Linked DNA regions of Homo sapiens: region 1 is linked to region 2. The links come from fine-mapping of genetic effects on gene expression. A gene starts in region 2. The other region holds a variant in brackets. All regions are shown on one strand. Distances are from middle to middle. Region 1 holds the start of LOC124901721 (a long non-coding RNA gene). Region 2 holds the start of HBP1 (HMG-box transcription factor 1).

The links.
Region 1: its variant is fine-mapped to the expression of HBP1 in whole blood (TOPMed, PIP 0.95).

Annotation. Positions count from the first base shown.
Region 1 is chr7:107,214,305-107,225,678 of GRCh38, forward strand. All of the region lies in intron 19 of COG5 (component of oligomeric golgi complex 5), which reads right to left. LOC124901721 (a long non-coding RNA gene) reads left to right here and starts at 7,758. Exons shown (of 3, transcript XR_007060472.1): 1 at 7,758-7,846. The variant C/T (reference allele first, on the strand shown) is at 5,262.
Region 2 is chr7:107,162,557-107,173,355 of GRCh38, forward strand. HBP1 (HMG-box transcription factor 1) reads left to right here and starts at 6,447. Exons shown (of 11, transcript NM_012257.4): 1 at 6,447-6,629. RefSeq lists silencers at 5,975-6,548, 6,567-6,666, 6,927-7,146 and an enhancer at 6,097-6,256.

The DNA of each region.
Region 1 (11,374 bases), 52 kb after region 2:
AGCAAAAACCCTGCAGGGCAGCATAAAATGAGATGATATATTTAAAGTGCTGCCAACCAAAAAAGCTATCCTTCAGAAATGAGAAAGAAATAAAAACTTTCCCAAGCAACAGCTAATGGAGTTCATCAGCAGTAGGCCTGCCTATTGAAATTGCTAAATGGAGTTCTCTAAGCTGATATAAAAGGCTGCTAATTTAATAAAATATATGAAAACACAAAAATCAATGCTATAAATAATATAGAGTCATACTCAGAAAAACCTAGAAGTGTAATAGTGGTCTGTAAAATAATTTTATCTCTAATACAAGGTTAAAAACTATTAAAATTAGAGCTCAAGGCCAGGCACAGTGACTCATGCCTATAATCCCAGTACTTTCAAAGGCTGAGGTGGGCGGATCACTTTGGGCCAGAAGTTCCAGACCAGCCTGGTCAACATGGCAAAACCCTGTCTTTACCAAAAGTACAAAAATTAGCCAGGCATGGTGGTGTACACCTGTGGTCCCAGCTACTTAGGAGGCTGAATCATGAGAATCGCTTGAACGGGGAGGTGGTGGTTGTAGTGAGCCAAGATGGCACCAATGCACCCCAGCCTGGGTGATAGAGCGAGACTCTGTCTCAAAAAAAAAAAAAAGAAAAAAGAAAACAAAAGTATAGCCCAAATTAGGGATACAAATTACAAAATGATGTATATTTTGACATCAAAATATTAAAATGTGTAGGGAAGGGGAATAAAAATGTAGAGTTGTTGTATGTTATCAAAATTCAGTGTTATCAGCTTGAAATACCCTGTTATGAGTATATGGTTTTTGGAAGCCTCATGGTAAGTACAAAACAACAATCTAGAGTAGAGGCACAAAACATACATAGAAAGAATTCAAAGCATACCACTACAGAAAACAATCAGACCACAAAGGAGGACAGCAAGAGAGGAACAAGGAAACAAAGCATCCACAAAACAATCAGAGAACAAACTACAAACTAGTATTATTGAGTCCTTACCTATCAATAATTATTTTAAGAGCAATAAAATCTCCATTTGTAAAAGAAAAAATGGCTGAATGTATAAAAAATAAGACCCAGCTGGCTGGGTGTGGTGGCTCACGCCTGTAATCCCAGCACTTTGGGAGGCCGTGGTGGGTGGATCACAAGGTCAGGAGATCGAGACCATGCTGTGAATGGGGAAACCCCATCTCTACTAAAAATACAAAAAATTAGCTGGGTGTGGTGGCGGGCACCTGTAGTCCCAGCTACTCGGGAGGCTGAGGCAGGAGAATGGCGTGAACCCGGGAGGCAGAGTTTGCAGTGAGCCAAGATTGTACCACAGCACTTACAGCCTGGGTGACAGAGTGAGACTCCGTCTCAAACAAACAAACAAACAAACAAACCCAGCTATGTGCTGCCTACAAAAGAGTCAACTCACTTCTTTTTTTTTTTTGAGACGGAGTCTTGCTTTGTAGCCCAGGCTGGAATGCCTTGGTTCACTGCAAGCTCTGCCTCCTGGGTTCACGCCATTCCCCTGCCTCAGCCTACGGAGTAGCTGGGACTAGAGGCGCCTGCCACCACACCTGGCTAATTTTTTATATTTTTAGTAGAGATGGGGTTTCACCGTGTTAGCCAGGATGGTCTCGATCTCCTGACCTTGTGATCCACCCACCTCGGCCTCCCAAAGTGCTGGGATTACAGGCATGAGCCACTGCGCCTGGCCCGAGACTCAACTCATTTCTAAGGACACAAAGAATAAAAGTGAAAGTATGAAGAAAGATATTCCATGCAAATGGAAACTGAGAGAGGCAGGACTAGCTATCCCTTTATCAGACAAAATAGACTTAAGCTCAAAGCAATAAAAAAAGGCAAAGAAAGTCATCATGATAAAGGTGTCAATTCATCAAGAGGATATAACAACTGTAAATATATCTGTACCCAACATCAGAGCACCTAAATATGTAAAGCAAATATTAAATAATTTAAAGACAGAAATAACTTACAATGCAGTAATTGTAGGGGACTTCAATACCTCACTTTCAACAACGGCAGATCATCCAGATAGAAAGTTAATAAGGAAACAATGAACTTGAACTACATTTTAGACCAAATGGACCCAACAGACATATACAGCATATTCTATCCAACAGCAAGGGAACAGACGTCTTCTCAAGTGCACACGTATCTTGCTTCAGGATATGTCATATGTTAGGTCGCAAACCAAGTTTGAACAAATTTAGGAGAAATGAAATCATATCAAGTATCTTTTCTAATCAGAATGGTATGAAACTAGACATCAATAATAGGAAAAATCTTTGAAATGCCACAAATATGTGGAAATTAAACAACATGCCCCTCAACAACCAATGGGTCAAAGGAGAAAACAAAAGAGAAATCAAAAAACATCTTGGAACAAATGAAAATGGAAATGCAATATACCAAAACGTATGGGATACAGCAAAAGCAGTTCTAAGAAGGAAATTTATAGCAACAAATACTTAAATAAAAATAAACATCTCAAATAAAGAACCTACTCAAGAAACTACAAGAGAAGAACAAATTTAAGCCCAAAGTTAGCAGAAGGAAAACAATTCAAAGATCAGAGCAGAAATAAATACAGACTAGAAAACCAGGGGAAAAAATCAACAAAACAAAGAGTTTTTTGAAAAGTTAAACAAGATTGACAAACCCTTAACTAGACTAAAAAAGAAAAAGAGAAGACTTAAATCAAATTGGAAATGAAAGAGAAGATATTACAACTGGTACCACTGAAATACAAAGGATAATGAGCGATTACTATGACAAATCATATGGCCACAAATCCAGTAAACTAGAAAAAAATGGATAAAATTCCTAGACACATATAATCTACTAACACTGAATCAAGAAGAAATAGAAAACAGAAATAGAACAAACAGAGAATCTGAGCAGACCAATAATGAGTAAAGAGATTGGATCCATAATAAAAAGTCTCCAATCAAAGAAAAGCCCAGGACCTGATGGCTCCACAGGTGAATTCTATAAAAGGTTTAAAGAAGAGCTAATACCAATCCTTCTCAAACTTGTCCAAAAAAATCAAAAAGGAAGGAATACTTCCAAGCTAGTTTTAGGAGGCCCTGATACTAAAGCCACAAAATGACATAGAAGAAACTTACAGGGCAATATCCTTGATGAACATAGATATGAAGATACAAAATCCTCAACAAACTACTAACAAATCCAATTCTACGGCACATTAAGAGGATTATTCACAATGATCAAATGAGATTTCTCCCTGGGAGAAATGCAAGGATGTGTCAACATATATACATCAATAAATGTGATGCATCGTATCAGCAGAACAAAAGACAAAAACCATATGATCATTTTATTAGATGCGGAAAAAGCATTTGACAAAATTCAACACCCTTTTATAATAAAAACTCTCAACAAATTAACGGCCACATACGATAAGCCTACAGCTAACATTATACTCAATGGTGAAAAGTTGAAAGCTTTTCCTCTAAGATCAGGAACAAGACAAAGATGTCCACTGTCAGCAAGCACTTTTATTCATAATCCTACTGGAGGTCTTTGTCAGAGCAATTAGGCAAGAGAAAGAAAGAAAAGGCACTCAAATAGAAAAGAAAGACATGAAATATTACCTGCTTGCATATGACATTATCTTACATATCCAAAACCAAAAAGATACCACCAAAAGACAGAACTAATAAAGGAATAAGGTCCCAGGATACAAAATTAAGACAAATCTAATCAATAACAATGAATGATCTGAAAAGGAAATCAAGAAAATACCTACATATAATAGCTACAAGAATGTAAAATACTTAGGAATAAATGTACTTAGGAATAAATTTAACCATGGAAGTGAAAGATTTGTACACTAAAAACCGTAAAACATTGATGAAATAAATTGACAAAAAAATAAATGGAAAGCTATTCTGTGTTCACGGACTTGAAGAATTAATATTGTTAAAATGTCCATACTATCCAAACCAATCTTCAGATTCAATGCAATCCCTATGAAAATTCCAATGTCTTTTTCCCCAGAAATAGAAAACATAATCCTAAAATTCATATGGAACCATAAAAATCCCTGATTAGCTAAGGCAATCATAAGTAAAAATAACAAAGCTGGAGGTATCACTACCTAATTTTAAACTATATTACAGAGCTATATAGTAATTAGAATAGCATGGTACTGGCATATAAATAGAAACACTAAGAAATAGAACAGAACATAGAGCCCATAAATGAACCCACACATTTACAGTCAATTGATTTTCAACAAAGGTGCCAAGAAAACACAATGGGAAAAGGACAGCCTCTCCAATAAAGGGTGTTGGGACAACTGGATATCCATCTAAAGAAGAATAATTTGGACCCTTAGGTCATACCATATAAAAAATCAATTCAAAAACGGATAAAAGTCAAGGTGTGGTCTTGAAAGGACTTGAAACTGTAAAAAAAACTAGAAGAAAGAAAACATAGGGGGAAACTTCCATGACACTGGTCTGGGAGGTAACTTTTTGGATTTGATCCCAAAAGCTGAGACAATAAAAGAAAAAATAGACAAATGGGATTACATTAAAGTAAAAAGCTTCTGCACAGCAAAAGAAATAATGAGAATAAAAAGACAACTAATAGATTAGAAGAAAGCCATACATCTGATAAGAAGCTAACATTCAAAATCTATACGGAACACAAAAATGGCAAGAAAACTACCCAATTTAAAAATGTGCAAAAAACCTGAATAGATGTTTCTCAAAAAAAGTCATATAAATGACCAACAGATATATGAAAAAATGCTCAACATCACTAATCATAAGGAAAATGCAAATTAAAACCACAATGAGATATCACCTCATGCCTGTCAGAATGACTATTATTTAAAAAAATGAAAGATTGTGGTGAGAGTGTGGGGGAAAAGGGAACCCTTGTACACTGTTGGTGGGAATGTAAATTAATACAACCATTTTGGAAAACTGTATGGCAGTTCCTCAAAAAACTAAAAATAGAATTACAATATGACTTAGCAACCCCACTTGAGTACATATCCTAAAGACTTGAAATTGGCATGTTGAACAGATAGCGCACTTCATGCTCAATGCAGCATTATTTACGATAGCCAAGTTATGGAATCAATCTAAGTGTCTATCAATGGATGAGTAGATAAAGAAAATATGACATATATACAAAATAGAGTACTATTCAGCCTTCAAAAAGAAGCAAATCCTGTCATTCGACAACACGGATGAGCCTGGAGGACATTACGTTAAG[C/T]TAAATAAACCAGACACAGAAACACAAATACCACATGGTCTCACTTATTTGTGGGATCTTAAACAATAGAACTCATAGAGGCAGAGAACAGAATGGTAGTTACCAGAGGCTAAGGGGGGAGGAAATGGGGAGGTTTTAGTTAAAGGGTACAAAGTTACAGTTAGACAGGAGGAAGATGGTTTTTGAAATCTATTGCACAACATGACGACTATAGTTGGTAGGAATGCATAGTACATTTCAAAATTGCTAATAGAATAAATTTCAAATGTTCTTATCATTAAAAATGCTAAGTGTTTGAGGTGATGTTTTAGTTTGAATTAATCATCCCACACGGTACACATATAATATCACTTTGTACCCCATAAGTGTATACAATAAACAAATATATGTTAACTCATTTATTCTTCTAAAAATCCTATGAGTTAGGTACTATTACATCCCCATTTTACAGATGGGTAAACAGAGGCATAGAGAAATCCAGTAAAAGCTAGAAGTGGCAAAGCAAGGATTCAAACCCAGACAGCCTGGCTCTTAATTCTGCAATGCAGCCTCTTTTAGAATATCAGCTGTAGCAACTACTCATCCTATTTCTAGAACAGCTATGCTGATTCACAGAATCAGTATATACAGAAACAAAGACCTCTAGAGAAAGCACAATTTTGAACTGTCAACAACTTGTACAGAAAAACCTATCTGAGAAAACTAATGTGTACAGGATCATCATTTGAAGGTCACACAATTATCACCTCTCTGGGTACTCCAAATTCTATCTTTGGGTCAAAATGGACCTCTAGTCACTTAGCTACTTGAAGCATATAATCACAATCTCTTTCGGAATTATTTTCACATGGTGTGACCTTAAGTTCCTCTGGGGTAATGGGTGGTGTTGTCTTAAAGGCCTCTGGAAACTGACTCTGGGTTGGAATGATGACGAGGCTATGCCTCAGCTCTGCTCTCCATAGACTGGTTACTATTTGTCCCCAACAGAAAAAGCTAAAATATCTTGCAGCCCTATGGTCCCTGGATGCTGAGCAACTGACATTCCCAGACAGCTCCCTAAACTCCAAATCCAGCCCATGATTCTAACCTGCTCATTGTGACGAGGCTGCTCTCGTGTTTGAGCTATTGCAGGGAAAAAGTGTAATAAGAAGTCCCTCCACCGGGTCACAAGTTCATATTGTAGGTCTGGTGTGCCCAGGCCCTGAAAGGGGACTTTGAGGGATGCAAAGGATAGCGGGACTCATGCCTTCTTTTTTTTTTTTTTTTTTTTTTGAGGCAGTCTCGCTTTGTCGCCCAGGCTGGAATGCAGTGGTGCAATCTTGGCTCACTGCAACCTCTGCCTCCCAGGTTCAAGCGATTCTCCTGCCTCAGCTTCCCAAGTAGCTGATGACAGGCGCCTGCCATCACACCCAGCTAATTTTTGTATTTTTAGTAGAGATGGGGGTTTCACGATGTTGGTCAGGCTGGTCTCAAATTCCTGACCTCAAGTGATCTGTGTGCCTTGGCCTCCCAAAGTGCTGGAATTACAGGCATGAGCCACTGCACCTGGCTTCATGCCCTCACTTCTGTCCTGCTGTCCCTGGTTGTCGTGTTCAGCAGTACATTGGTCCTGTGAGTTTTCCCTTTCTCCATTAGAGCCCATTCTTTGCTCATGCCATGTGATAGAGTAGGGTTCATCTTGAACCCTAGTTTACGATGTGAGAAGACCCCAGGGGTGGGGGTGGGGTTCAGCCCTATATGACAGTCCTTGATTGTTAACGAACAGCAGCCATATGGAATCCTATACTACCTCTACAACAGGAAGGTGATCAAGAATTTTGGTCCTCCCATCTCTTAGTACTTCCCGTATGAAGCTCTCTGTATAAAAGTCCTTATAAGTACTTTAGAATTAAGTGCCAAGAAATGCTTAACTTTCTTGGCCAGGTGTGGTGGCTCACACCTGTAATCCCAGCACTTTGGGAGGCCGAGGCAGGCAGATCATGAGGTCAGGAGATTGAGACCATCCTGGCTAACATGGTGAAATCCCATCTTTACTAAAAATACAAAAAAATTAGCCGGGCATGGTAGCGTGTGCCTGTAGTCCCAGCCACTCGGGAGGCTGAGGCAGGAGAATGGCGTGAACCTGGGAGGCAGAGCTTGCAGTGAGCCGGGATCATGCCACTGCACTCCAGCCTGGGTGACAGAGTGAGACTCCGTCTCAAAAAAAAAAAAAAAAAGAGATGCTTAACTTTCTCTTAGGAATTGATACATTTTCTTCCTTCTGATAATGAGAATCAGATAGCTGATTCTGTTTCTCTCTTATCTTTGGCTTCATGAAGTTTAAAGCCAAGTTTGAAACTTATCTATAGCAATTTAAGTTAGTTTTATGGTTCGAATATTTACATTTTTCTTTTTTTCTTCCAATATATTCTTGACGCAAACTGTAAATGATACAAGGAAGGAAAGAAGGGCAGAAGGGGAAGGACAAGGACGGAGACAGACGAGGAGAGGGAAACAACCTGAACAGTACATGCGCATAACAGCATGTCTAGCAGCCCAGCCCACACAGAGGTTTCTGGCTGAGATGCCTGTCTAAGCCAGGCCTGGTAAGAACCAGCTCATTTTAAAATGGAATCTTCTGGGTAATCACCTGTCCCCCCCTTTTTTTTTTTTGAGATGGAGTCTCGCTCTGTCGCCCAGGCTGGAGTGCAATGGCATTATCTCGGCTCACTGCAACCTCTGCCTCCTGGGCTCAAGTGATTCTCCTGCCTCAGCCTTCTGAGGTGGCTTACAGGATTACAGGGGCGCATGGCACTATGCCCAGCTAATTTTTGTATTTTTAGTAGAGACAGGATTTCACTATGCTGGCCAGGCTGGTCTCAAACTCCTAACCTCGTGATCCGCCCACCTCGGCCTTCCAAAGTGCTGGGATTACAGGCGTGAGCCACCACGCCCAGCCTCACCTGTCCCTTTTAACAGGACTGTCAAAAAATCCATGAAAAGCAAAACTAGATTTGACTCTGTATTGTGCATCACTGTCATAATTACCTGTAAACATCAAACAGACATTTTGTTTTGGGTGCTTGTTTTAAGAAGCTGAAAGAACATAGCTTGAGCACTCCCTTCTCCCTGATTCCAGGTGGAATTTTAAACACTAGCAAGTTAAAAAATAAATAACCATCTAAAGTGCTTTATGAAACAAAAAGAAATAAGGTGTTATAAAATGCAGATACACCAAATGCCACAATATCATTCTTAGAGCATAATATTCTAAATATAGCAGCACTTTCAAGGGTGAACTTTACAGGCAGAAGGTAGTGTCAATTTGTCAACTATTAGGTCTCATTAAAAAAAAACTGCATTTCTACTCAGCAAGATTCACATTTAAACGATTCATAGCTATGCAGCTGTCAGTCTTCTGACAGCTTGTTAAGGCCAATCATGAAGTAAAGTAAGGCAAAAATCCTGCTGCTCCTGTGTCCACATCTAACATCAGTGGTATCCTGAGACAGATATAGGCATCATTCTCTTCCATGCCACTTGCCATCACCCCATCTTGACCTCCTCTTGCTGAAGGGCCTGGGAAGGCAGCAAGACCACTAAGTATGCGTACTGAGGTCTGGAAGCAGCACAGAAATGAAAGAGTGGGAGAAGGAACATGATTCCCTTTGTGGGGCAGGGCACAGGTGGCCATGCTCTCTGCACAGGACACAATGAGGGCCTCTGAGAGAGAAGAGAAAGTGTTGGAGGCCTGTAGAAGGTGAGCATTTCTATGGAGATTCTTTAGGGAGGCCTAGTTTGTGGCACGAGGGGCCATGTGGGTCCCAGGAGAGAATGAAGCAGGAGGCTGATTTGGGTTCAAAGTAGAGAGGTTAAAAATGTCCCTGTCTCAGTCTAGATTGTCTATACCAGCAGACCAGGTAGGAAAGGAGGCAGGGATTTGGGCTGACATTCTCTAAGAATAAAAGCATACATTTGGCTGAGTGTTCCTTGTGTACTGTCTGGGAGCCTGAATGCAACAGAAGACAGTGAGATGAGGCATTTCAGCAGCAGGAGGTGGCCACTAAAGTGGGGAGTTTAGATTCTCTTTAAAATTTTCTGATTTTCCTGGATGATACACGTAAGCATTCAAATCCTGTTCCGGGACCATTCAGATAGAAAACAAACAGAAACTTCTGGAATAAGATGTGGGGTATGGTGGTTACAAGCACAGGCTTTGGAATCAGGCAGCCTGGGTCTAAAATGTGACTCCCAGATTCTCCCACTTTGCTGCTGTGGGTTTTAATTGCCTCATGGGGATCATACCTAACTTTTAAGTGCTGTGAGGGCTAAATGAGGAAGTATCAGTAAAACACTCAGCACAGGCTTGGTATAAAATAAATAACCAAATAATAGTTGTCAGAAATTATAAAAATGATGATAAACTAAATATTCAACTCTTCATGTTTACCTGGGTGCGCTTAGCACTGCCAAAGTTGTAGCAAAGAGCAACAAAACAACTAAGTCCAAGATGGTGGTTGCCTTCTGGCTGTAACACTGAAATCTGAAACTTAGAATTAAGAATCCCGAAACCTCAGAGAAACCGTTATTTCAAGGGATGGGTTAAGGGCTCCAGATCCACAAGCGGAAAGAAAAGACAGAATGCATCTGGAGGGTCTTAGTGTTAAAGGTGCTAAAAATGGAAGCTGCAGAGACGGCCTTCTTTCAGTTCTATAAACATTCAGGCACAGAGGTTTGGAATTTCAATCAACAGAGGATCATAAATACAAACTGTAGACCTAGAAAACCCTCATTACTCCTATAATTAAAAACAATTGACAGGAACACTACATTCTAGTTATTGACAGTTTTCTTCTTCCACTGCTCCTCATGCTAAAAGATCCATCAGAACACAGCCCCTATCTCCTGACAGCTTTCACTGCCCTTTCATTAAGCCTAGCTGGAAATGAGCTTCCAGCCGAGAAGACTGTGGACATCATCAGGGACAAGCTGTCCCTTCAGGAGCAAAGGTGGTGAGGCCTGCCTGAAGGCAGGGTCTGTGCCCCTGAGCTGGTGAAGAGCATTTGCTCCCTTTTCTGCCCTTTGCCTCACAAAGATCTATACTGACAATGTCAAGGGTCACAGCTTTGTGGCCTCTGGCCAGGAGAAGCTGAGGTAACAACCTCACAAACACTACTTAGGGAATAATGCCATGCTGCAGAGAGGTGGACAAAGACGGGGTCTCTATAGCTCTGACACGTGGGTCTTGTGTAGAAATACAAATCACCCAGGGGCAAATCACTAATGTCAAAAGCTTTCAGAGGCAGCATTCTCTACTGAGTATGAAAAGATTCCCGCTGCCTGAGAAACTATAATGTAGACAGTAAAATGTAAATATATGCAAGAAGCTTGCTGGCTTACATAAATAGTCCACTAATATCACCATCAAGAAGAAAGTGCCCCCTGGCAGATGGCTGCATGATGGGGGAAGGGAGCACCTACTAAGGCCTGTGTGTGTGTATGTATGAGGGCGTGTGCATGTGTGTACATGCTGGGTGTGGTCTGGACTCAAACTCCAGCTGGCACTGTCATCTTCCATTATGAAGGGACCCCTGAACTGAGCCCATTGCCCTCCCCTGCAGCCACTGCCCCTAATTGGAACTGAGGCCCTCTGTGGCTATTGCAACCTACTGGCTTTTGGCTGTTTGGCTGCCTGTTTTTCTTGTCAACTCACGCCTGCTCTTTATTGGGTAATGTTTTAGTACATTTTTTTATTACTTTTTAGCTCCATGGTTATTTTCAAATGGGAAAAACAATGCAAGAGAGATTTAAAAATAGTATTTGACTTTTCTGACTATAAAAATAAAATAAGGCAGAAAATTTAAAAAAAATAAAAACCCTAAAAAAAACCCCAAGTGACAATCTTAGTCAAAGATATTTTCATGTTTTTCCTTTTTGTCTTTTATTCTCCATTCAAACAAATACTTTTATTCATTTATTTTATATTTTGGGACAGGGTCTCACTCTGTCACCCAGGCTGGAGTGCAATGACCCAATCACAGCTCACTGCATCCTTGACCTCCCTGAGCTCAGGTCCTCCCACCTTAGCCTACCGAGTAGCTGGGACCACAGATGTGCACCACCATGCCTGGCTA
Region 2 (10,799 bases):
CCAAAGCATCTTTAAAGATACTGATAGAATTTTTCCTCTCAAAAAACGTTATAAAGGATGAGATGACCTTTGCCATTCTTAAGGAAAATTAATACTGTGTAGGCCTAGAGAGGTGAGTCATACATCTGGATTAAGGCAGAGCTTTGTTAAATTGCTGGACGGGATTCTTAAAAAAAAAAAAATTTACTACCTAAGAGAAATATAGTTTTTAAGGAATGCTGGCTTCTAAAATTTAGTGTTTGGTATAGCCTGATGCCAAGTATCAGAAAGAATTTTGACAAAAATGAAGAATTGGAATGAGTTGAGACAACCTTACCTGTTCTAGAATACTTTTAAAGGCAGCAAAACTGGTTGAATAGACTACAGAGTTGTTCATCTTCACAGGTATAAAAACCCTTTAAAAGTGTAATGAATTATGGAAATATAAGCAGTAAAGTATACCAGTTATTTGCAGAAGACTTGTGTCAATAACTATGAGACCTTAAATCAGTTCAATTTGTATACCTAAGGACAATCAGTGACTTCACTAAAGTCATTTACTTTGTGAGTCAATGGCAGAACTTATGGAAAATTGAGATATATTGATTCTTCATCCAATTCATGGCCTCATATATTTTCCCAAATAATGTTAATGAGCCTGGCATATAAATTGGTATATAGTTTCCAATGCAGAGAATAAGATTATTTTGAGAGGAAAACTTTTGATGTGACCAACAGATCTGGGTCTTTCTTTACCTTTTTATGCTTCAAATTTATAAATCTAAAATTGCCTAGAAAATCCTGAAGAAGTATGTATCACATATATAGGAAAATGTGGTGATACATGATAGGGAAGTAATGTCTACACCACAAAAATGAATGCTACCTACCAAGGAGGTGGTTTTCACAGATTTTGATGTAACCATAGCCTGAGTCTCATCATTTTTCCAAATATAAAAAATGCTACTACAAAATGTATATATATTAAATCATGTTTTATCAGCACCAATTATAACTGATTCATTATAGCATATAAATGCATTTTTTACTGTCACTGGAAAACAGAAAATGACCTTTTTTTCAGGCACAAGGGAAAGTTTTCTGTAGCTTTTGACTGTAACAACCCAGACATGAAACCTTAAATATTTTCTATTTAACTTGAAAAGAAAGGTTACAAAGTAGACCTTCGAATGAGTTTATGAACAGGAAATATGACCAGTTAAAATCTTAGATAAAGTTGCTATTGATGACTGGTTTTCCATCTTGGTTCTAATCAGAAACCTTCCTAGATCTTGCTGAGGAACAAGAGAATAAACTCTGCATCCCTGAAACTTCATCACCTCTCTTAGGCCAAGGGCTGACATTTAATACAAGTGTACTTCCTTTACATAATGACTATATTCTTGAGGTATATACAAATGACATTTTTTAAAAGCCAAGCAATATTTTAAGAAAGGTGCACACTATAAAGACATCTTTGGTAAATCTATTTTCTCATAATTGCACTTTAAAGCTGAACAATTAAATATCCTCAACATTTTTATTACTTATATTCTGTATAACTTGAAGGAGTTGAAGTGTTAATTAGGTTGGTGCAAGAGTAATTGTGGTTTTTGCCATTTTTTAAATGGTAAAAATGGTAAAAATCACAATTACTTTTGCAGCAACCCAATACTTTGTTTGCCTTTGAGTGACTGACACTGTGAGGGAAACAAAAATGAATAATAGTGCTTATCATATAAACATAGCTGAAAGATGAGACGTTCTCAAATAATAACAATGATTACATAGAGGAAGTGACAGTTAAAGTGCATGCAAGTTATTTAACAAAGTCAAATATTCAGACCAGCATCCTATATATAGTGCTACACTACGCTGTATATGAGAAAATTCATGCTGCTTGTCTCCCCTTTTTATTCATTTGTTCCACAGGTAGGTATTTTTTTAATAGCTTATTATGGACCAGACAAAAAAAAGCGCATGAGATGGTGACTGATAAGGAGAGAATGTAAATGTGGAGGGGGGACAAATGTAAGCAACAATATTCAGTTTAGCACAGTGTGATAAAAGCGATGTGTGTACTATTCCTACTTTTTTTTTTTTGAGACAGAGTCTGGCTCTGTCACCCAGGCTGGAGTGCAATGGTGTGATCTCGGTTCACTGAAACCTCTGCCTCCTGGGTTCAAACGTTTCTCCTGCCTCAGCCTCCCGAGTAGCTGGGAATACAGGTGCGTGCCACCACACCCAGCTAATTTTTGTATTTTTAGTAGAGATGGGGTTTCACCATTTCGGCCAGGATGGTTTTGATCTCTTGACCTTGTGATCTGCCCACCTCAGCCTCCCAAAGTTCTGGGATTACAGGCGTGAGCCACCGTGCCCCGCCCTATTCCTACAATTTTAATTGCTCTTTATCTGACTTAATTGCACTTAAAATGAGGTACTTTTTGCTAGCAACTAAACATAGAGAAGGTCCTAGGATACCAAATAGACGGGAGTAGAAAATACTATGTGAGAGTTTGTGTTAAATAGTTCAGATAACAGTAATGATCTCTAGAAAACTTGCAGGACATGAGAATAGTCATTTGAGCTTGATTTTAAACATCGAGAGTGAGATGAAATAGAATTGTTGCCTTCTCTAAATACATTTTCATTTATACCAAATTAGACTTGACAAAAACTTTTTGGGAAAAATTGGGATAAAAAAATGAGTACTCCTCTCTATGTCCTGAGGATACCCAGGTTTATTTCTCCAGACTTGGACTTCCTAAATGCCAGATGAATATATTCAGCTGCCCAAGGACCTCTGGACTCAAATTTCTTCCTGCACAGCATGCTTATCACCCGAGGTTGAACCTATCCTTTCCCTTCCTCCCAGTCCCCAAATCTGCTATCCTCTCCAGCATTCCCTCAGTCAATAACATCAACATAACCACCCTTCCCCAACATACTGCAATTACCCAAGCTGGAGACACAATCATTTTGATTCTTCCCTTTTACGTTGATTTTTCTTCCTAATGTGGTTATAGTGTTAAGACATTAGCTTATCAGCCACTGAAGAAAGGTCTTGCTTTCTGGTCATCGGAGCAAAATCTAAACTTCAGTTGCATCAAGAACTACAGGAACAGGAGACAGATGACTCACTTCTACAATGGCCATCATTAGCTCCTGTGGATTTCATTACAACTTGACTGAATTACCTGAGTACTTTGAACTAATTAGAAAATTAACTCATTTGAAAGGATAGTAAGGTATATGGAAGGATATTTGTTGGAGTTTAAACATTCAAGATGCTGTCTGAAAACTTTGAGAAGTACTTAGACCATACATGTGTTCAATTTCTCCATTTAGTACTTGTTCATGTGATTTCATTTGTTTACCTTTTGACAATTCAAAGTGATTATTTTCAATATCAGGCAATGCATGTACTTGAACTTCTCTGTAGTTAAGCAAAGCAGTCATTGGTGTGTCAAATATGGTGGAATCAGGGAAACACATTATTTCACTCCTAAATAGGATTTACCGGTTTTTTGTTTTTCTTCTGTTCGTTTTTTACTATCTCTAACAAATTAGAACTTGATATTTAAGATAACAGAGGTAACTTTACAAACCGCTGGAAAGACATTTTGATTTGACAATTTCTTGACATTTTTTTGCATACATTTTATGTGTGTATATGTGTGTATAGATATGGTGACTGTACCAATCAAGAAGAGGTGTTATTTAAAGTAACTGATTTTTTAACTTCAATTTTATCATGGAAACATCTGAAAGATAGTTAAAAACTGTAGTTATATCTGTTTTAGTCTGAGAGTATAATTAGCACATGTAAAAATTTCCAAGGAGATCTTACTAGTTTTGTACTTTGATCTTTGTTCTGGCTTATAAGTTGGCTAGTTTTATTGGTCACTCAATTAATGATGATGTCTCTGGTAAATACACATAAGCTACTAATGTGGTCATTTAGCCCCCCACGGAAGTCAGAAGATTGGACTAAGTGTCCACTTAAAGGTGTAGCGAATTCTAATACTAGTATTTAATCAGTTGTGACTAAACTATCTAAATTTAACTCATATTAAAGACTTGGATAAAAATGAGAAAAAGTGTGCAAAAAATGTTTTCTATCTTTTTATTCTCAATAATTGGCACAGTGGTCAAAAAATGGAACTAAACGTTTCTGAATGAATGGAAAAGGCTTTATGGAGCTATTAAAGGATAAATTATTATTTGTAACATATTGTACAATATCTGGATCTAAAGTTGAATTTTTTTTCCCCATTTCCGGTGTCCCCCGATAAAAAAAATCACCACTAAGGCATTTGGTAAAAACTTTAAAATAGTTTAACTTTTAAAAACAAGGTTTAGCTGAAAGCAGATCTCACAGTTTGTGTACTGGAGAGGGGTAAAGCAGTATGTCAATCTCTTGCCAGCTCTTTTTTTTTTTTTTTTTTAAGAGAAAAGTTTTTTAGTTTTCTAGGAGGAGTTAGACATAAATATCTCAAAACAATTTTAAATAATTAGGTGAACTTCACAGATTTTTCTTTTTTGTCAAGAAATTACATGTTGGAGTAGAGTTTATATTTTCTATTCTAGTACACGATGACCCTCCATTGTAAAAAAAAAAAAAAAAAAAAAAAGCATACACAAAGTAGCAGAGACATTCATTTCTTTGAGTCACTAATAATTTCTGAAAGATGATAAATTCAAATCCTGTCCTTTTTCCTCAGGGAAAAAATTAAGCATTCTGTTGGCTCTCCTCTGAATTATTTTAATAAAAAATAGAATGCTTTATTACTATTTGTGAACATAGAAAGTAAGTATTTGATTACACGGGAGGACTACTTTATAATTTCACTTCACGGATTCAAATGGGGAATTCTCAAGAATTTTAAACTCGATTTCAACATGTGGGGGCTTATTTTGGATTTCTTGATTTGTTACGCGGCTTTCAGGTATATTTAAAAATCCAAGAAATGCAGGAGGTTTTAAAGAAATAACTAGCTGTGTGATTTCTGGCTCTGTCCAAAGGTTTGCTTTTACAGATTTCTTACTAATGTAGGTTTTCCTCATCTTAATTCTAAGCATATATTTAGTGATCTAAAGTTAGAAAATCTAAAGCACAATTTAAATGATTAAACACTAAAGGTTCAAAGGGGGGAAAAAGCTTAATCATGCCTTTGTAATGTGAATGGTAAAGACACCAATTATTGACTAGATGCAGCCGACTGTGAATGGACAGCCATGTTTAAAGAGAAGTTAACTATAAAGCAGGGAAGCGTCTCTGGTGAGTCAGAGAATTCGTAACTTGAGGAACTCCTAGTGGAAATGAAGTGGAAAGACAGTTTCTTTCATCAATGAGAAAACGTCTAGAAGGAAAAGAGGGTTAATAAAACTCACCAGAGAAACTTACTGATAATGATTCACAAATTAAATCAGTTTACGTCATACATTACACCCTTTGTATTACGTTAACCAACGAGCATACTAATCAGTATGGAAAATGCCGCTTTAACTTGCCTCAATTTCGTAATCGCCCGCCCCCGCCCCCGCTTTGTAAATTCTCTAGACTCCAGCTTCTCGCTTGCTCACAGTCCATCCCCCAGCCTCACTCTTCCTGGCACTTAGGTGGCGGCTCAACAAACTTAGGTGAACTGAACAGAGCTGACAAGGCAATCTCAAGTTGCTGTCCTGGGAGTGGTGAGGCAAGGCACAAGAGAAAGGACTTCTAGTTCTTCCCACTGCCAGTGCAGCCCCCAGCATCACTTTCGACCCCTTCGTGCCTGGGGCCGTGATTTGTGGGTGATCAAGTCCCTCGCTAGCCTGCAGTACTTCCGCTGGTGCAGTCATCTCCTTCCCCTCGCACTAAAACAATACCCTGGCCTCCTGCCAAACTCTTGAGCAGCGAGCAACTCTGGCTGTTTATGGCCCGGATTGGGTGCTGCAAGAGGCTTGGGCCGCTCTAAGTGTTAGCAGAGGCCCGGAGGAAAAGAAGAGGCCCAAGCTTTAAAACACTCCCTTCCTCCGCCCCCTCCCTTTTGTCCCAGACACCAAAACAAACGAGCTGATACACGTGTCCCTATGACTCTTGTTTACTATCAAGACTGCGCTGTGCGAGCGCCTCTGGGATACGTAGTCCAGCTCTTCCCCGGCCAGCAGTCTCCCACAGCCAAGGACCAAGGCTTGAGACTACGAACCCACAATCCATTTCGGGGACAAAGTTTGGCTTGGGTCCCCGGACTCTCGGCAATAGTCCAATCCGAAGCACTTACTCTTGTGATTGACATGCCATCTTCTCCAGTAAACACAACACAAAAGTCAATACATGCCCGCCCCCCGAGACGGACCACGGTACCACCCAATGGGAAAGGGGAAGAACCGAATGGCAGTTCTGCAGTCCAATAAGAGGGCGAAAGAGCTGGGCGGGGCTCAACCCCCAGGGGGTTGAGGGGAGGGGGAAGACGAAGCTTGAAAGACTTGGTAATGGCGACGGGTTTGGTAAGTAGGAAAGTTTCGGTTGAGGAGTAAGAGCTGCCGCGGGAGCAGTAACCCGCGCGGGGGAGGCCGACGTCGGTCGGAGAGGGGGTACGAGAGCTGCTGGTGGTGTTGTCGTGGCCGGAGCGGCCCGCGCCTGGGCTGCCGGCACTTCGCGGCAGGTTTGTTGTCTTTCAGTTAGGGAAGAGGTGGGGGTGGGGAAGGGAGGGGCAGGAGCGCGGGGGATTGGGCAGACTGGAGGGCTCGGGTCCTCGTTCCTTCTTCTCGGAGGGTTGCCCTTGGGGTGGGGGCAGTTAACCGTTCGATTGGTGCCCGCGGCGAGCCCACCGGAGCAGCGTCTCCCGCGAGCTCACCTGGGCTTCGGGGCGGCGGCGCTAGGGGGTCTCGGGCGGGGGCCGGGAGGAGGCAGGGGGAGGGCGAAGTTCCGGGCCAGGTCGCGCGGTGGGTGGCCGGGCCGGGTGTGGAGATGGGGCGGGCCAGGGCGGGGGAAGGGGCCGACGCAGCGCCGGGGCTGCCCAGGAAAGTTTGACTTCAACTCCCCGTTTGTGGGCGGAGGGTCGGAGCTTGGCCAGGGGTGGGGGGCTGGCCGGAGGTGGGGGACCCCAGTGAGGCGCCGCCTCCTTCTGGACTGAGGGGGATTCTGGCTGAGCTGAGGAGCTCGCGGAGCCGCTGGGCCCCGGGGCTCATTGTTACGCAGTTCGAATGAATGGGCTCCCAGGCGCCTGCGCGCTGGGGCTGAGCCGAGGGGAAAAACAAGCCCGGAGTCCGGGCTGCGGTCACATGATGGGGGGAAGGGAGGGGAACGCGATGAATGGCGAAAGAGGGTGGGGGATGGACTTGGCGTGAACCGGGAGGCACCGCTCTGTGTGACCCAAAGAGGAGGCTTGGCAGGCGATTCCAGTCTCCGCCTTTCAACCTATGCTGCCACCGCAGGCCGATTGAAACAAAACAAAACAAACCAGGCGAAGTGGACAGCCAGGTTTTTGTAGCTTTAAATGCTGCGTGCTGTCTAGGGTGTTTCACTCTCCGCTGTGCACTCTACACTCGAGTTCATTCTTAGGGAGTTTTCAGCTACAGTCGTTTTTAGAAGGAGCACTGACAGCGAGGTAATACTCAAGTTTTCTGTTTGTTTTGTTTTTGGCTCATGGTGCCACTGATGCCAGGACGAGAGGAGGCTTAGAAAAGGAGTTATACATACTGGGAAGCGATGGAGTCCTACTAACAGCTCGGATGGAGGCTTTAGCTTTATTAATACTTCCCTCTGAATAGCCGTAAGCACTCCTAATAGTGGTTTTGAAATTAAAGGTACTTTTTGAGAATTAGAATAATTTTAACATTGGAAATACTTTTCTGGTCATTTAACAGTGATCTAAATCTGCAATGTATGTCTTGTACTTTTGGTTTTTTTTTGCTATTTTCCTTTATCTTGCAAATGAGTGTGGTAGAGTCGGTCATCTGTTCAGTTGCCTTGGTTAAACTCAGTTCTTGCAAGGTAGACAGTAGTTGACAAAATTTCAAGGAAATTTGAATTATATTGAGAATTAAATCCACTCCCTAAAGTTTTTGGGTTATGTTATACTTTTGAGGAGCCGTTTAACCACTTTAAAGCAAAATATTGTTTGTGCTTTCTCTACTGATAAATTATAGAATGAAGTTTTGATTTCACTTTCTAGTTTCATCTTAGTTTTGTAAACCTACTTATCTTTTCTGTCTCGAAAACCCTTCCTCTTTCTTAACTTCTCAAACTCCTAACTACATACCCTAGTTAAAAGGGTACCTTCTCCCAGGATTGCCCACCTACATGTCTCCGCTATCCTGTGTGCTTCACAGGGCATACCTCTCAGACGTCAAACATGATACTGTCACTGTAAGAGTTGTTTTCTTCACTATATACATATGTATATGTATAAAATATATAACATATACATGTATATATATAAAATATATAACATACATGTATATATATAAAATATATAACATATACATGTATATATATAAAATATATAACATATACATGTATAAATATATATATATATATATATATATATATTTTTTTTTTTTTTTGAGAGGGAGTCTCGCTCTGTCGCCAGGCTGGAGTGCAGGGGTGCGATCTCGGCTCACTGCAACCTCCACCTTCTGGGTTCAAGCGATTCTCTTGCCTCAGCCTCCTGAGTAGCTGGGACTACAGGTGAGCGCCACCACTCTCAACTAATTTTTTTGTATTTTTAATAGAAACGGGGTTTCACCATTTTGAGCAGGATGGTCTCAATCTCCTGACCTCGTGATCTGCCCGCCTCGGCCTCCCAAAGTGCTGGGATTACAGGTGTGAGCCACCGTGCCCGGCCCACTATATTTTAACTTCTTTGGATTCTTTCCTCACTAATCGAAGTGGCCAGTGAAGAAGGCATATGGCACGATGGCATGGACTTATGAAACTGCTCTGTGCTGAGGGTTCTTCAGGGTGAATTGCAAGCTGGTGTTTTGTATATGTGTTTGAAATAAAAATACTGGTACTCCCCTTTCCACCCCACGCATACATTATCCATTAGAAGTTACTACTGTCCCAGCACGGTGTCTCACGCCTGTCCCAGCGCTTTGAGAGGCTGAGGCGGGTGGATCACCTGAGGTCAGGGGTTCAAGACCAGCCTCGCCAACGTCGTGAAATTGTCTATTAAAAATACAACAGTTAGCTGGGCATGGTGGCGCACACCTGTAGTCCCAGCTGCTTGGGAGGCTGAGGCAAGGGAATCGCTTGAACCCGGGAGGCAGAGATTGCAGTGAGACAAGATCAGGCCACTGTACTCCAGCCTGGGCATCAGAACGAGACTTCCTCTCCAAAAAAAAAAAAAAAAAAGAGTCAATGCCAGGAATTTTATGTCTGTTAAGTATGAAAGTGAGTATTTACTTAGAATGGAAAAATAAATCACAATGAATTAAAAAAAAATTAAAGCTGCCAGATACCTGCATATCACAAAATTCAGGGAAAAATGGCATACTCTAATATTCTTATTAATTGCCTGATATCAGTAACATTCACATTTTTCATATACTTATCAGCATTTACTTTGGTGCTTCATAATTTCTACTATCATTTTCTATAGAGAAACTAGAAACATAATTTTCTCCATAATTGTGGTTGAGTTTTTAAAAGTTATTGATCATAGCTTTAAAAAAAAGCTTTTCCCACAAGTTTTTATAGATAATGTAAAAATGTTTAGGAGTTTATCTTATACTTTTGAGGAGCCATTTAACCACTTTAAAGCAAAATATTGTTTGTGCTTACTCGACTGATAAATTATAGAATGAAGTTTTGATTTCACTTTCTAGTTTCATCTTAGTTTTGTAAACTCAGTGAACCACATTATGGAGAAAATTATGTTTCTAGTTTCTCCATAGAAAATGATAATAGAAATTATGAAGCACCAAAGTTTAGGAAAACAAGTTTCATAAGAATTTTTAGATGATGTCGTTTTAATATGTGACTTATCTTATATGACTCATCTTAAATACTTATTTGAATTGACAGTACTCCTAAAACAGTTTGTGGATGACTGCTTCTGCTATTAATGGGTTTTCTATTGTCTTGATCAATATAGTATTTCATGTTGAATGAGCATGAAATTACTAAGAACTTGTATAGATGTGGATTGGGCAGTGTCTGTGGGATGTAATATCTTTTATACCTACAACAATTCTGATAGGTAGATAGGTACTAGTCCCATTTTTTTTTACTTATTTTTAAAAATTTTTTAGAGATGGGATCTTGCTATGTTGCCCTGGTTGGTCTTGAACTCCTGGCTCAAGCGATCTTCCTGTCTTGGTCTCCCAAAGTGCTGGCATTGCAGGCCTGAGTGACTGGGCCTGGCCACTAGTCTTATTTACAAATAAAAAAAACAGGTCCAAATAAGAAAACAGGCCTAGAGATTTAATTGTTCAGGGCCATGAAAGTGGTAAGTGACCAAAACGAATCCACTAAGGGTTTTTGTTGTTGTTTTGTCTTTTCTTGTAGCCCGGTGGCAAACTAGAGTTGTAGACAAATACCTGTGAAATCTTTTGAAGTTTTGTTGAAAATACTCTAAAAGAACAGCATTACAGCCTCAGAGATGCTTTTGGTATAGAAAGTTGCATTTAATATACTTTGTTATGGAGGCTTGTTTTAGCATGTAATTATGTAATCCATTTAAAATACCTCAGTTTCAGAGATAGAAATTAATTGCAAATTACCTTTTCTTCACCTACTCTTTGAAAACAATTTGAGCGTGTAGTCTGGACTGGTTATGGAAATCCTTCAGGATTAGGGGAGAGCATATAGAAGATCCTGCTGTGGATTC